Linked DNA regions of Homo sapiens: region 2 is linked to region 1. Evidence: fine-mapped expression QTL. Tissue or cell type: whole blood. Region 1 holds a variant in brackets; the other region holds the start of a gene. All regions are shown on one strand. Distances are from middle to middle.

The links. PIP is the estimated chance that this variant, and not a neighbour inherited with it, causes the effect.
Region 2: ZKSCAN2 starts here. The variant in region 1 is fine-mapped to the expression of ZKSCAN2 in whole blood (TOPMed, PIP above 0.99). The same link has a PIP of 0.9 or more in tibial nerve.

Annotation. Positions count from the first base shown.
Region 1 is chr16:25,361,228-25,369,332 of GRCh38, reverse strand. No RefSeq gene overlaps it. Among named protein-coding and RNA genes, the nearest start is that of LINC02191, 68 kb to the left of the region's middle. The variant C/A (reference allele first, on the strand shown) is at 3,405.
Region 2 is chr16:25,254,472-25,262,576 of GRCh38, reverse strand. It overlaps ZKSCAN2 (zinc finger with KRAB and SCAN domains 2), which reads left to right and starts at 4,732. Exons shown (of 7, transcript NM_001012981.5): 1 at 4,732-5,848; 2 at 7,185-7,371. The coding sequence starts at 5,450. ZKSCAN2-DT (ZKSCAN2 divergent transcript) reads right to left here and starts at 5,000. Exons shown (of 1, transcript NR_170220.1): 1 at 1,511-5,000. RefSeq lists enhancers at 3,871-3,950, 4,071-4,390, 4,806-5,366 and silencers at 4,601-4,800, 4,881-5,120.

The sequences.
Region 1 (8,105 bases):
CAGAGAAAAGGGAACGCTCATACACTGTTGGTGGGAATGTAAATTAGTTCAACCACTGTAGAAACCAGTCTGGAGATTTCTCAAAGAACTAAAAATAGAATTACCACTCAACCAAGCAGTCACACTATAGGTATATACCCAAAGGAAAATAAATCATTCTACCAAAAAGATAACTGCACTTGTATGTTCATTGCAGCACTATTCACAATAGCGAGGACATGGAATCAACCTAGGTGCCTACCAACAATGGGTTGGATAAAGAAAATGTGGTACATTTACACTATGGAATACTACACAGCCATAAAAAAAGATTGAAGTCTTATTGATGCAGTATCTTTTGCTCCTTAGTTCAGCTAAAATCTGGGTTCTTGTCACACAACCAGGAAACATTAGGCACGCAGACACATTGAAAGGTGAGGAGAGTGGAAGTTATTTTTATTTTATTTTATTCATTATTATTATTTTTTTTTTTTGGAGATGGAGTTTTGCTCTTGTTGCCCAGGTTGGAGTGCAATGGCGCAATCTCGGCTCACTGCAACCTCCACTTTCCGGGCTCAAGCGATTATCCTGCTTCAGCCTCCCAAGTAGCTGGGATTACAGGTACCCACCACCATGCCCAGCTAATTTTTTTTTGTATTTTTTAGTAGAGACGAGGTTTCACCATGTTGGGCAGGCTGATCTCAAACTCCTGACCTCAGGTGATCCACCCGCCTCGGCCTCCCGAAGTGCTGGGATTATAGGTGTGAGCCACTGCACCCGGTCAAGAGTGGAATTTATTTAAAAAAATCTCCCAGTGAAAAAAAGAAGAGGTCCTGCCAACAGGCTCCCACCTCACAGATTAAATACCAGGCCACCACACACAGGAGCTGAAGAGGCCAGGCTCCTCCCTCCTGCATAAGGTGCAAATCCCCAGTGGCTCCACCCCATTCTCCCAGTGTGCAGGCCGGCCCCCAGTCCATGGTGGGCACGTCCACAGAAAGCCCTGAGCAAGTTCGCTCATCTGCACATAAGCATCTGATGTAAACACTTGTAGGGCGGGTCAGAGATTCTCCCGGGGCCCTCCCTTATCTGCCTCCTGCTTCTATCAATATCATTTGCAGTAACATGGATGCTGCTGGAGGCCATTATGCTAAGTGAATTAATGCAGGAATAGAAAACCAAATACTGCATGTTCTCATTTATAAGTGGAAGCTAAACATTGGCTACACATGGACATACAGATGGGAGTGACACACACTGGGGACTAACAGAGGGAGAAAGGACTCATGGGGCAAGTGTTGAAAAACTACCTATTGGGTGCTATGCTCACTACCTGGGTGAAAAGATCATTTATAGCCCAAACTTCAGCATTACGCAATATACCCAACAAAGCTGCACATATACCCTGAGTCTTAAAAAAAAGTTGAAATTTAAAAAAAAAAAAAAAGAGTATGCACCTCTAATCTTAGCTATATGGGAGGCTGAGTGGGGAGGATCACTTGAGGCCAGGGGTTTGAGAGCAGCCTGGGCGACGTAGTGAGACTCTATCTCTACAAAAAAATTTAAAAATTAGGTGGCTGCAGTGAGCCATAATTGCACTACTGCACTCCAGCCTGGGTGACAGGGCAAGACCCTGTCTCAAAAATATATATGTAAAGAAGATAAATAGATAAAATTTAATTTTTTTTTTTTTGAGACAGAATCTCACTCTTTTGCCAGACTGGAGTGCAGTGGCACGATCTCAGCTCACTGCAACCTCCACCTCCCGGTTCAAGCAATTCTCCTGCCTCAGCCTCCTGAGTAGCTAGGACTACAGGTGCATGCCACCATGCCCAGCTAATTTTTTTTTTTTTTTTTTTGAGACAGAGTCTTGCTCTGTCGCCCAGGCTGGAGTGCAGTGGCGCAACCTCGGCTCACTGCAAGCTCTGCCCTCAAGGTTCACACCATTCTTCTGCCTCAGCCTCCCAAGTAGCTGAGACAACAGGCGCCCACCACCACGCCCGGCTAATTTTTTTGCATTTTTAGTAGACATGAGGTTTCACCGTGTTAGCCAGGATGGTCTCGATCTCCTGACTTCGTGATCCACCCGCCTTGGCTTCCCAAAGTGCTGGGATTATAATTTTTGTATTTTTAGTAGAGATGGGATTTCACCATGTTGGCCAGGATGGTCTCAAACTCCTGAGCTCAAGGCAATCCACCCACCTCGGCCTCCCAAAGTGCAGGGATTGCAGACATGAGCCACCACGCCCAGCCTATACTCTTTTTTTTTTTTTTTTTTAAACCATGGATCTTAGCAAAAAGCCATAAATTTAAATTTAAAAAGTGCATCCACTGCATGCAATAGCCTGTGTTGAGGCAAATTTCCCTTGCTTTCCCAACCTGGCTTCACCCCCGATCACTGAGAGAATGAACCCCTGTTGACCCCAAGAAAAATATAAATATCTCTGTGACATTGTGATATAATAAGAAATGTGTTTCCCCACATCGTCCTTAGTCTTCAAGGGCTAGTCCTCATGTAGAACTTTTCAGAGTTCCCAGCCAGCCATCCGTGTGCAGAAAATTCAGGGACATTAGTCATGCCCTTTCCTCCTGCTGTGGATTCTAACCTATTTGAGGGAAACATTCAAAGAGCCAGAGGAGGATCAACTGCAGAATTAGTTTTCCTTATGAAGCTCAATTGGAGAGCATCGCATGGCTCCCCTTACAAATCTAGACTTTCAGACCAGCATGACCCAGATTTCCCCACCCAGTTACAGGTTGAAAAGCTGTAAACACAGAAGAGTGTGTGAAAAGGCAAACACAGAAGAGTCTGCCTGGTCTCTACAAGAAGAAGGAAATGCCAGTCCTCGTTGTACCTGGGAGCAGATCGGTCCACAAGAGGAAGGACGGCAGATACAAAGAAGCACAGAGAAAGACAGGAAGGGAGGAAGAGAGGGAGAGGTGGAGGAAGGATGACCACAGACAGAGGGAGAGGGAAAAGTGTAACAGTTGCCTCTGGATCACCCAATGAGGAAGTAAGCCATGCCTTGCCCAAATGCATAAACTTCCTCCCCACACTGCAAAGAAAACAGAAGCATTAGCAGAACTACCTCCCTCTACGGACCTAAGTGGGGACTACAGAAATTAAGAACTGTACCCACTTGTAACCTGCTTCTAGTTTCTTTTAGACCTTGAGCCTATGCTAATCAGGATGCCTCCTCTAGATGCTAAAAGGCATTCATTCCCAACATTAATGGAAGGCTTCACATACAGGGAATATATTTGCAGACTTTTGTAATGCCAAGAAACCTAGGTGTGAGTTTCCCAGCTAACTTCTTTTCCCCATGCCACTCCTGCATTTTTGAAAAATGATGCACGTTCCCCTCTTGGGAAATTCCAAGTCTACCTGGGCATCTCCAGGCATGTGTACCCACCTGCTTCTAACT[C/A]CGAGTACCAAAGGCTGCCTCTGAAAACTAATTATTGACTGCATGCCTGTTCATGGGATAAGTTTGTCACAGCTGCTAAAACACTTGCATTCTCAACACGGCCTTGGTGCCTTTGGGAAGCCTGACCACAAAACGAGTTGATTTTAACAGCATCTTGCAGGGAATACACCTATTTTTAGCAATTATCTTTGGAGTCACGGAAATAAAAGCTTCTGAAAATTAATGATTCTTACCAAGGTGTTGGCTTCTTGATATGCAGAGCTGAACTGCACAAGATTAAAGAAAAGCCAGGCAGATGGTGTTAAGGGAAGAGCGTTTTTTTTTTTTTTTCTAGGAAGAGAATATAGAAAAGAAATGGTGTCAGATAAAGGAAAGAGCTATGGACACAGAGTCAAGAAATATGAGTCAAATTCTACGTGGCCATAGGTAAATAGCCTAGAGCTTCTCTCTAACTCTTAATGTAGCCATTTTTAAGTAAAGAAAGTGTAAGTCAGGGGAAAAATGAGGTTTTGTGTTTTTTTTAAGCTAACCTCAGGAGTTCTCTCAAGAAGTGAATTGACCTATTCTTTCATGAGAATATACTTAATAGATATTTTTGCTTATGAACTGAGCCATTCTAAACAAAGCCAGGTTACTCTAGGGTAAGAAAAAAACAGATAATTAACTGGTTTGTATAAGAAATAAACAGAAGTCTGGGCGCAGTGGCTCACGCCTGTAATCCCAGCACTTTGGGAGGCTGAGGCAGGCAGATCACAAGGTCAGGAGATCAAGACCATCCTGGCTAACATGGTGAAACCCCATCTCTACTAAAAATACAAAAAATTAGCCAGGCGTGGTGGCGGGCATCTGTAGTCCCAGCTACTCGGGAGGCTGAGGCAGGAGAATGGCGTGAACCTGTGGGAGGCGGAGCTTGTAGTGAGCCAAGATGGTGCCACTGCACTCCAGCCTGGGTGACAGAGCGAGACTCCATCTCAAAAAAAAAAAAAAGGAAAAAAAGAAATAAACAGGAATCTAGTGGGGAGAGGGGAGAAATTCCAGGAGAGGGGAAAGGATTTCAAGTAGGGCAGGGAAACAAAGCTAAAAAATAAGAGCTAGCCAGGAGTTTAAGACCAGCCTGGGTGACATAGCGAGACCCTGTCTCTACAAAAAAAATTAAAAAGTATAGGTTGGTGCAAAAGCAATTGCAGTAAAAGTAAATGTAGATTGAAAGCAATGACAAAAACCGTGATTATTTTTGCATTAACCTAATAGCCAGGCATGGCACTGTGCACCTGTAGTTCCAGCTACTCAGGAGGCTGAGGCAGGAGGCTCACTTGACCCCAGGTGGCCAAGGCTACAGTGAGCTATAATTATGCCTCTGCACTCCAGCCTGGGTGACACAATGAGATTTCATCTCGAAAAAGAAAAGAAAAGAAGAGATGACTCATAAAATGTGAATAGAGATGATGTCTGTCACTTCCAGGACAAAGCAGTGGAAAGGGCATGCACACTTCCCTTCCGTCTTCAGCACTGAGAAGGCTTCATGTTCCCTCTGGAACCTATAAGAACATAGGGCACCATTAGCCTGGGTCCCTGAGTGACCATGTGGGGCTGACCTCTCACTATTGCTTACATGGCAGCAATAAATATTCGTTAGTTTAAGCTAGGTTAACTAGATTATATGTCATCACAGACACCCTCTACATCTTAGGGGGTGTCTGTGATGGCATATAACCTAGTTTCTTCTGGGTCTCCTTTCCTGCTTTATGGTCTCTAAGAACCTCTTGAAAAATTGGATTTCCTACTGCATATGAGGTAGAAGTGTGTCCTAGTTCCACTCCACACTCTTCACAGCTCTGTTCTGTGTCCAGGAGGATAATTAGCTCCACAGATTGAATCACCAGACATCCCTCGCCCTCTGCCTGCTGGATAGGAGCAGTCAATGGGAGGCAGCAGCAAGAGCTCAGAGGGTGGGGTATTTAGTCCTGGCCCCCAATAGAGCCCTGAATCCACCTACTGCCACCACTCCTAGCTGGCTGGCCCTCTTCCATGTCTACAGCTGTTTCAGTTTCCAATAACACTGCTAGTCTCTCCCTTCCCTTCTTCTTCGTGCCTGAGGCTGGTCACAGCTCCCTGCTGGTGCTATTTCCATGTGCTTCACCAACTCCTACTGGCTCCTTAGTCCTTGAGCCTATACTACTTGGGATGCTTCCTCTAGATACTAAAAGGCATTTCCAACATTCATTGAAGGCTTTACATACAGAGAACATATGTGCAGACTTTTGGAATGCCAAGAAACCCAGGTGTGAGTTTCCCAGTTAACCTCTATAGAGTATGCCATTCTTTCCTCCTGGGACTCTGATGTTTACAAAGCTAACACAAATTTTATTTAAATTATATGAAAAAAATGCTCAACATCACTAATCATCAAAGAAATGCAAATTAAAACGACCGTGAGATACCATCTTACACCAGTCAAAATGGCTGTTATTAAAATGTCAAAGAACAAGAGATGCTGAGGAGGCTGCAGAGAAAAGAAAACACATATACACTGTTGGTGGGAATGTAAATTAGTGCAACCTTTATGAAAAACAGTATGGAGATTTCTCAAAAAACTAAAAATAGAGCTACCCTTTGACCCAGCAATGCCACTACTGGGTATCTACCCAAAGGAAAAGGAATCATTTAATCAAAAAGGTATCTGCACTCATATGTTCATCGCAGCACTATAAGCAATGGCAAAGTCATGAAATCAACCTAAGTGTTCATCAACAGATGACTGTATTAAAGCCAATCATCTATTGACCATGGAATATTACTCAGCCATAAAAAAGAATGAAATTATGTGTTTTGCAGCAATATGGATGGAACTGGAGATCATTATCCTAAGTGAAGTAACTTAGAAACAGAAAGTCAAATACTGCATGTTCTCACTTATAAGTCAGAGCTAAACAATGGGCACACAGGAACATAAAGATGGAAATAATAGACATTGAGGAATCCAAAAGGTAGGTGGATGGGAACGGGGTACTATGGTACTACCTATCGGGTACGATGTACAGTATATAGTTGATGGGTACAGTAAAATCCCAGACTTTACCACTACACAATATATCCATGTAACATAACTACACTTGTACCCCTAAATTCATAACAATTTAAAAAATTAATTAAAAATAAAAATAAATTTTAAAGGCCAAGATGACCCCAGTATGACAAAGATCCTAGGAACACCCAGGCTGTTAACATCTGGAATACTGTACAAATAAATACTTTTAAAAACTGTCATAAGAGAGCCTGGAACATAGGAAGTATGCTACACATATGAATCTGAACCTGAAAGAAATAAAGCTTTTATTTCAATGAGATGTTCTGGAATTGTACATCTGTCCATTTACACTATCTATGGTTGAATTCAACCATAAGTCAAGGACACTGACATACATCTTGAAATACATATTAATATCTTACAGATTTCATCCTGGCTATAACAGAGGTTTCTCAGGATAGGGTTGGAGGGAGCTTGAGCATTCTTTTTATTTCCCATCTAAGGTCCCATAAACCAACAAAGCAATGCCTATCAGGGCCACTCCCTCCCAGCTTCCTGCAGAAGCCTCACCTGCAATCTGAGATCTTTTTTTCCTTCTTCACCTCTTCCCCTCTGAGATATTGAGTCGGGCACCTACACTATGCCAGCATCACCAAATAAAAGTGGCAATGCAAAACACTGGGTAAGATTCCAAATCCTGTTTAATGAGGTAAGAACAGAATGGAGGATCTTATTATGATCAAGTTAACACAAAAAGTGATGCCAAATACTGATGCAGTGACTCGAACAGCAGTCCACAGGAAAACAGGAAACTGATGCTAAGTGGGTGACAATGAGGTATGCCAACACGAAGCAACTCCAGAGTGCACCATTTAAATAGAATACAAGGTGAGTGGTGCAATGCACTTTACTCGTTCATCCAGAGTCTCAAAGCCAGAGAAGGTGAATTCTTGCTGTTGTTTGGAAGGCCCTCACGGCTACCCACTATTTTTCACATTCATTTCCCTGTTTGTGTTGGCTGGCTGAGCCAGGCTTGTGAAAGGTGGGATCCTCTGCTCTAAGTGGAGGATTCTGAGAGGAGCTGCCAACCTTCAGACAGACCATCAGATCAGAACACTTTGCTCAACCCTGCAGCTCCTAATATGGCCAAACAAAGGGAAAAGTCTTCTCCTTATGGAGATAAAGGGCTTTCTGGTGGAATTTAACAAATATACAATGTAATGCCTGGAAGAATCCAGAGCTCTCTTTGAACCCTGGAGTCAGACTGTTAACCAGCTATTGAGCATCCAGAGATAAAACAGCATAGTGACTAGAAGCGTGGACTCTGGAACTCAAGTGCCTGGGTCTCAATCCTGAGTCTGTCACTCACTAGCTGGGTGATCTTCGGAGAAGTCACTACACTCCCATGTTGTTACTAGGGATCCCAGTTATATCAAAAGGTGAGCTCTTTCCTGATTGACGTCATGAAGCCAATATATGAAACCAGAAGTGAGGCCAGGCACAGTGGCTCACACCTATAATCCCAGCACTTTGGGTGGCCGAGGCAGGTGGATCACCTGAGGTCAGGAGATCAATACCAGCCTGACCAACATGGCAAAAACCCCATCTGTACTAAAAATACAAAATTAGCTGAGTGTGGTGGTGAACACCTGTAATCCCAGCTACTCGGGAGG
Region 2 (8,105 bases), 110 kb after region 1:
CTCACGCCTGTAATTCCAGCACTTCGGGAGGTCAAGGCAGGCTGATCACTTGAGCTCAGGAGTTTCAGACCAGCCTGGGCAACATAGTGAGACCCTGTCTCTGAAAAAAATATATAAAAATTAGCCGGGTAGTGGCATGTGTCTGCAGTCCCAGCTGCAGTGGGCTATGATTGCACCACTGCACTCTAGCCTGTTTTTTGAGAAGGAGTCTCGCTCTGTTGCCCAGGCTAGAGTGCAGTAGCGCGATCTCGGCTCACTGCAAGCTCCACCTCCCGGGTTCACGCTATTCTCCTGCCTCAGCCTCCAGAGTAGCTGGGACTACAGGCGCCCACCACCACGCCCAGCTAATTTTTTGTATTTTTAGTAGAGACAGGGTTTCGCCATGTTAGCCAGGATGGTCTCGATCTCCTGACCTTGTGATCTGCCCACCTCGGCCTCCCTAAGTGCTGCAATTACAGGCGTGAGCCACCGCGCCAAGCCCTCAAAATAATATCATCAGAAGATCCAGCAGGGCTTGGTCTGTAATCCTGCATGGCAACAAGAGACTGGAACTAGTGGCTGCTTCCTTTAGACAGGAAATGTGGCCTTCAGCTCACCACACTCCCCACCATCCCCTATTGTCTTACACTCTGCCCTACTTCACTCTATGCTATCTGCCTGAGCTCTGCAGGCTTTCAAGTTTGTGATTCCTGCTCCCTCATGTCCCCAAGCTGTTTGTGATACTTGCCTCTCCTAAAACCACCAAATAGCCCAAGGAGAATATAAAGAACCCTACTCTTATTTGAATCTGAATCCTGGGTTGCCATTTAATCTGATGTAACCTTGGGCAGTGACATCACCTTGCTCAAGTCTCAATGCCCTAAACTCTAAAATGAAGGTAATCATATCTGGTTTATAGGATTTTTGTGAGGACTAGGCTTTGCCTAATTAGCTCTTCTCCTTTGGATCTCACCCCTAGCACTGCTTCTTCAAAAAAACCTTTCCAGACCTCCCAAATAGATCAAATCCCTCTGACAGACATAGGTTCTCAGCACCATGTCTCTTCTTGGTGGCACCCATCTCCCTTAGAATTGTACTTGAGTTTGTGGATTACTTATTTAATTCCTGCCTCTCCCACCAGACTGAAAACTCAATAATGGGAGGGGAATCCTGCTTTTGCTCCCTACCTACCACCATATCTGGCATTAAATAGGTCCTCAATAAGTATTATTTAAAAAGAAAAATGAGCTGTGTAAGGATGCTGATACAACCCCTGGCATATACGAGGTACCCCACTGATTCTCTCTGCCCCACCCTCAGGTAATGCCTGTTATGTACATGGTACCCTAAGCTTCTGGGGCTAAAATTGGCTCAATTTTTAACATTTGGGAAACAAGTGATTAGGTTGTGTTTTCTAATAAGCTATCTACCTCCCAGAATAAGGATTTTTGTTTTGCCCACTGACATACATGTAGCCGAACTGGTGTCCAGGCCACTCGTCGCCTGAAAGCCAAAAACTCAAAAGACAAGCTTTGGTGAAAGCAAAGTTAGCTTTATTCGAGAAACCAGCAACCTGCAAAAGGCAGTGCACTAGCATTCAAAGACCACCTTTCTCAGTTGTGCCTCTAGATCCAGGGATTTTAAGGAAAATTAGGAGAAATAATGATCAAAACATTCTTGTGGGCCAGGAGCGGTGGCTCATACTTGTAACCCCAGCAATTTGGGAGGCCGAGGCAGGTGGATCACTTGAGGTCAGGAGTTCGAGACCATCCTGGCCAACATAGTCAAACATCATCTCTACTAAAAATACAAAAATTAGCCAGGTGCGGTGGCACACGCCTGTAGTCCCAGCTACTCAGGAGGCAGAGGCTACAGCGAACCAACATCACTGCACTCCAGCCTGGGAGACAGACCAAGACTGTCTCAAAAAACAAAACAAAGAAACATTCTTGTGAATCATGCGCAGTCTCAGATGGGCAGTTAGTCATTACTTTCTTGGTCAATGCCTTGTGACTAGACTGTGCAGGGGCCATCAGCCTGTTCCCAAAGCTGCGGGTCTGTGTGTTTTATCTGTTGAAGAAGGTCCTGTTTTTTTCTGTGGCTGTTTTTAGTGAATAGTTTACAAACTCAGGCAAAACAATAATTATACTCAAGCAAGCAAGCTTTTCTCTAACATAGAGTCAGTACTGCTGTTACCCGTTGCAGGGCCTAGGGGACTTAGCTGGACGCCTACCTGGCTTTTGTTACCCAATGCAATGCCTCCATGACATAGCTAAATTCCTACTCAGATTTAACTCTGCTTATTTTTAGAAAACAGGTTGTCTGTGGTCATAGGTTCCTTCTTAGCTTACTCGACCTCTGAAGAACCTCTAGCTTCATTCTAATCCAACTTCAGTACTAAATGACATTCCCACTGGTTGCCATGACAGTTGACAATCACCGTGATGACCCGAAGAGACCAAAAAAAGGACAAAAAAAGGGGCAGCTCCTTGATTCCAGGAAAATCTACCTCCCTTCCCAAGAAAAAACATGAATATTCCTCCTCTTGTTCTTAATTTTTATTTTTTTTAGAGACAGGGTCTTACCATGTTGCCCAAGCTGGTCTCCAATTCCTGGGCTCAAGCTTTCCTTCTGCCTCCTCGCCTTGCTCTTAATGCCCAGCCCCTTCATTAAGGACACCTGACGACTAAGCTCTGATTCTTTTGTTTTTTTTTTCTGTTTTGTTTTGTTTTTGACACAGAGTCTCACTTTGTCAACCAAGCTGGAGTGCAGTGGCACAATCTCAGCTCATTGCAACCTCCGCCTCCCGGGTTCAAGTTGAGTCTCATGCCTCAGCCTCCCAATCAGCTAGAATCACAGGCGTGTGCCACCATGCCCAGCTAATTTTTGTATTTTTAGTAGAGACGGGGTTTCGCCATGTTGGCCAGGCTGGTCTTAAACTTCTGACCTCAAGCGATCCACCTGCCTTGGCCTCCCAAAATGCTGGGATTATAGGCGTGAGCCACCACGACCAGCCTAAACTCTTGATTTTTTTAATCCTGCCCAAATTCCTATCTAAGGGATCTGGGGAGTCATGACCTACAAACCATAAATTCTCATCAGATGGGTTTTATTTAATCCTATATATGATGACTTACTTTCCATTCTGACTCTGGCATAACATTACGTGACAAAAAGAAAGTCAAAATATTTTACCCCAAAACATGTTTCCTTGCCCTATTTTGCAATTTCTTCCATAAAGGACAGCATTTTCCCCCAAAAGCTATCCTTTGTGGGGTAAAATGTGCATCTGTAAAGAACATCTATTAACATAGCTAGATGTTTTTCTTCCAGGCCCTCCCAATCCTAAACGGATTAACTAAAAGTCTAACACCTTTTGAAGATCTGAATAGGAAACATTTGTCATCTATTATCTCTAAGAGCAGCCACCATAAGACTTCAAAAGAACCTTAGTCTCCACTATCTTTTATCTTAACCTGAACACTTCCTTTCTATCAATCCCAGGTCTTCAGACAAACTCAACCAATTGTCAACTAGAAAATATTTAAATTTACCTATAGCCTGGAAGCCCCCACCCCCACCCCTTTGCGTTGTCCCGCCTTCCTGGACCAAACCAATGTATTTAATGTATTTGACTGATGTCTCATGCCAACCTAAAACATAAAACCAAGCTGCACCCCGACCACCTTGGGCACATGTTCTCAGGGCCTCGAGAGGGCTGTATCACAGGCTGTGGTTACTCGTATTTGGCTCACAATAAATCTCTTCAAATATTTTGCACGGTTTTACTTTTCGTCAACACTCCCTATTACCTGTAACTTCTCAGTTTCCAAGAGCTGAGAGCTTGATTTGCGAGCTACCCTCCCACTTCTCCAATTCCATGGCCACTGAATGAAGGCTGCACTGCCTGATACTCACACTTGGTCTCATGCGCTGGCTCTGCAACAACGGACAGACAAGAGTTCCTTTGGGGGAAACCAGCTTCCCAGGTGACACTGTTGCCTCTGCTACATGCGCAAAGCGCAGCCTGGCACATAGTAGGTGCTCAAGAGAGGGAAAGCCGGGTCTATGAATTCAGGGACAGGGGCAGCACCAGAAGAGAGCAAGCTGGGGCCTGGCTGGCTGAACCCTGGCCCCGAGACCCCTGTGACCCCCCTTCTCATCAGGATGCACCACATGAACCTCCCCAACGCGAGGGCCAACAAGTGGCCCCAGATGAGACCGCGCCGGGAAGGGCCTGGGGCCACGCACAGATACTTCCGCCAGAAAAACACCACGCCGCGCCGTGCACCTCCGCCAGAGGAAGAAGGTCCCGCAGGGTCGGGGTAACCGCTCCATCCCCGACCGCAACCCTGGACCAGGTACAAGGAACAGATCCCTCCACCGGAACGCCGTGTCCCTCCGCCAGACACAGGAGTCCCCGCTCCCGTGCTCTCCTTCCCCGGCAGCCAGGCCCCGGTGCCGACTCCTCCGCCTCAGGGAGGCCCCGCCGCCGCCTAGATTCTCCGCCTGAAGCGGGACTCGCGACGGCAGGTTCCCTAGAATCCCTCTGTGTCCCTCCGCCCCGGGGAGGACCCTCCGCGCCCCTCTACAATCTTAAAGTCCCTCAGCGACGAGTCACCGCGCCGCGCGCTCTCGCGAGAGTCCACCGCACGGCCCCCCCCCCCTCCCCCAGCCCCTCGCCCGCCAGGACGCCTCGCGCGGGCCCCGCGGCGCTCGGTGGCAGGCGGCGCATGCGTGACTGCGGTTCCCAGCGCCCCCCGCGCTCTCCGCGGGCCGAGTGGACGAGGCCGAACGCGAGCAGCCTGCCGCTGCCCCCTGCGAGCCCTGGCTTCGCCCCGCAGCTCTTCTCCCTTCCGGGCGGAACAGTTTTTGCGGCCTTTCCTCGGCGGCAGCGGTTTCCTCAGGACGGTCGGGGCCGTCGTGGGCCCGAAAGAGCCCGGCGCCGCTCTCGGAATCCGGCGGCCCCAGCGGCACCCGCGGCGGCCTGGACGTGCTGCGGTGACCCGAGCCCGGAACCTGGCGCCGGGCGGGGCCTGCACATCCGGCCCCACCCACTCGGGGACTCGCCTCTCCGCGCCCGACCCGGGAGTAGCGGACACACCCCCTCCCGGCCCGGCTGTCCGCCTCCGCCCAGCCTTTCCTCAGCCTGCTTCATTTTTCTCCCAGTCGTCCAGCCTCCCGGTTTCCGACTTTGCACTAAGAGGGATGCACTCTGGAAAACCACATTGCGCGGTCACATCTTGTTTGGAGAAGAGGCCAGGCTTTTGCATCTTAGAGTATACGTTCACCTTTTCAAGGGCCTGGCATAGATTTGATTAATCAGCCTGGAATACCCTGTTCCTGCCGACCTGGCCGTTTTTACCTCCGTACCTTATCACACTCCCAGGAACATTAAGCAGGGAGCGCTTGGAGTCTTCTTTGGGTCCCCACCTTGAGCTAGACGTGAAGTTGACCCCTGGGCTGCAGCATGGCTGTCGCCCTCGACTCTCAGATCGACGCGCCCCTGGAGGTTGAGGGATGCCTAATAATGAAGGTGGAAAAGGACCCTGAGTGGGCATCAGAGCCCATTCTGGAAGGATCGGATAGCTCTGAGACCTTCCGCAAATGCTTCAGGCAATTCTGTTATGAGGATGTGACTGGACCCCATGAAGCTTTCAGTAAACTCTGGGAACTTTGCTGCCGGTGGCTGAAGCCAGAAATGCGTTCCAAGGAGCAAATACTTGAGCTGCTGGTGATTGAGCAGTTTCTCACCATTTTACCCGAGAAGATTCAGGCTTGGGCACAGAAGCAGTGTCCGCAAAGTGGAGAGGAAGCGGTGGCCCTGGTAGTGCATTTGGAGAAAGAGACTGGAAGACTAAGACAGCAGGTGAGAGAGGATTTTCCAAATTTTTGTACTTAGAAAAAAGGGAATGGGAAAGGCATGTGGGCAGGGATGTATTGCAGAAAGACGTGCTCTTCAGAGAAAGATAAATGGTACTAATAAAAGACCCTATAAGGGGGTCTTTTCACTTTAAGTGAATCCACTTAAAAGGGGATCAGAATTTCACATGAAATAGAAAAATAAAAGCTTTGATTGAAATATTATCTTACAATGGAAACCAGACATTATTCACCTAAGCATTTATCGTCATCTTTGGCATAATGTTTGCAACAAAACAATATAAGAGAACAATATGGTTTTGCGTCACAGAGGTTCACTTACGCATTTTGATCAAAAAAGGCTATTCTGTTCCCCCTTTAAAAAAAAAAAAAAAAGACTTCATCCGTTATCCCAGAGCCGTCTCCAAGCGTTTTACTGTTGCACTCAGTGTCTTCTGAAGTGCTCTCATGCCTTCATTTCTGTCACTCTCCTCCAGTCTAACTGCCACATCTTCATTTCTCAGTGGCTTGCATGCTCTTCTAGTTGTTCTTCAACCTCACTTTCATGAACCTCGTGAAATCCTGCAGCATTTGCAAGATTTGCGGTTTCACCTTGCATCAGACTTGCATTGTGTAGAGATCTATCAGCAGGTTGCTGTATTGGTCAGGGATAGACAGATAGATGTGGATATTAATTTTGTAAGTTTTCATTTCACTACTGTATATATTCATGTCCTGGTAACTTCTTTGCGAACGTAACAGATATAGAGTCAAATAATATCTATTCTAGCAACAAGGAGGCTCTTTCACTCCTGACAGATTTCCTTCTCTGTTTAGTATTAAATATTATTCTGGCCAGGCGCGGTGGCTCACATCTGTAATCCCAGCACTTTGGGAGGCCGAGGCATGTTGATCACCTGAGGTCAGGAATTCGAGACCAGCCTGACCAACATAATGAAACCCCATCTCTACTAAAAAAATATAAAATTAGCCGGTTGTGTTGGTGCATGCCTGTAATCCCAGCTACTTGGGAGGCTGAGAGAGGAGAATCGCTTGAACCTGGGAGGTGGAGGTTGCAGTGAGCCAAGATCGTGCCATTGCACTCCAGCCTGGGCAACAAAAGTGAAACTCTGTCTCAGAAAAAAGAACACTGTTCTGTTACCTTACACCCAGACTGCTGGACAGTACTCTCAGCCCAGCGCTCTCAGAGACTCCACTGGGAATGGAGTGGAATTTTCATTCCTTCTCATGTCTCTGTCCTTCTTTGATGTCTTTCCTGGGAGAATTTCGCCCTGATATGGGCCTGTTTTACTCCCTCTTATGGTATTGACTTCATTTCTCAGGTCAGCAGTCCCGTGCACCGGGAGAAGCACTCCCCACTTGGAGCAGCGTGGGAGGTGGCAGACTTCCAGCCAGAGCAGGTGGAGACCCAACCCAGGGCGGTGTCTCGGGAGGAACCTGGAAGCCTCCACTCAGGACACCAGGAACAGCTGAACCGAAAGCGAGAACGTCGGCCCTTACCCAAGAATGGTAAGAGGGAAGACTCGGAGCACGCCTAGTGCAGAGGCTGGGGCAGATTTCCGCAGTACCCCAACGCTGTGAATGTGCAGTGGAGGGCCTCCTTGATACATATTCAGAATAGGAGAAAGGTTTCATTCACTTCAAGAATTAGGAACATGTGCAATATAAGTGAAAAGGTATCATAAAGATGGAAACTGAGTCTGGGCAACATGGGAAAACCCAGTCTCTACAAAATCGCAAAAAAAAAAAAAATATTAGCCAGGTGTGTTGGCGTGCACCTGTGGTCTCAGCTACTCAGGAGGCTGAGTCAGGAGGATTGCTTGAACCCAGGAGGTTGAGGCTGCAGTAAGCCGTGATCACACCACTGTATTCCAGCCTGGGTGACAGAGCGAGACCCTGTCTCAAAAAAAAAAAAAAAAAGATCCAAACTGGGGAAACTTAGATTGCCTGGGCCAGCTATGAGATCCTGTGGTGGTAAACTCTCCATGGCTGGACACAGTGACTCACGTCGTAATCCCAACACTTTGGGAGGCCGAGGCAGGCGGATCTCTTGAAGCCAGGAGTTCAAGACCAGCCTGGGCAAGATAGCGAGACAAACACATTTTCTCTACAAAAAAATAAAATAAGATCTACATTCTACAATCATCATGTGTTTTTCAGTCCTGCCATGTGTATGTGCTCTTGGCTGACTATAAATAAGTCAAAAAGCTGTTTGAAAGGGAACAAGGCATTTGTGTTCAAAG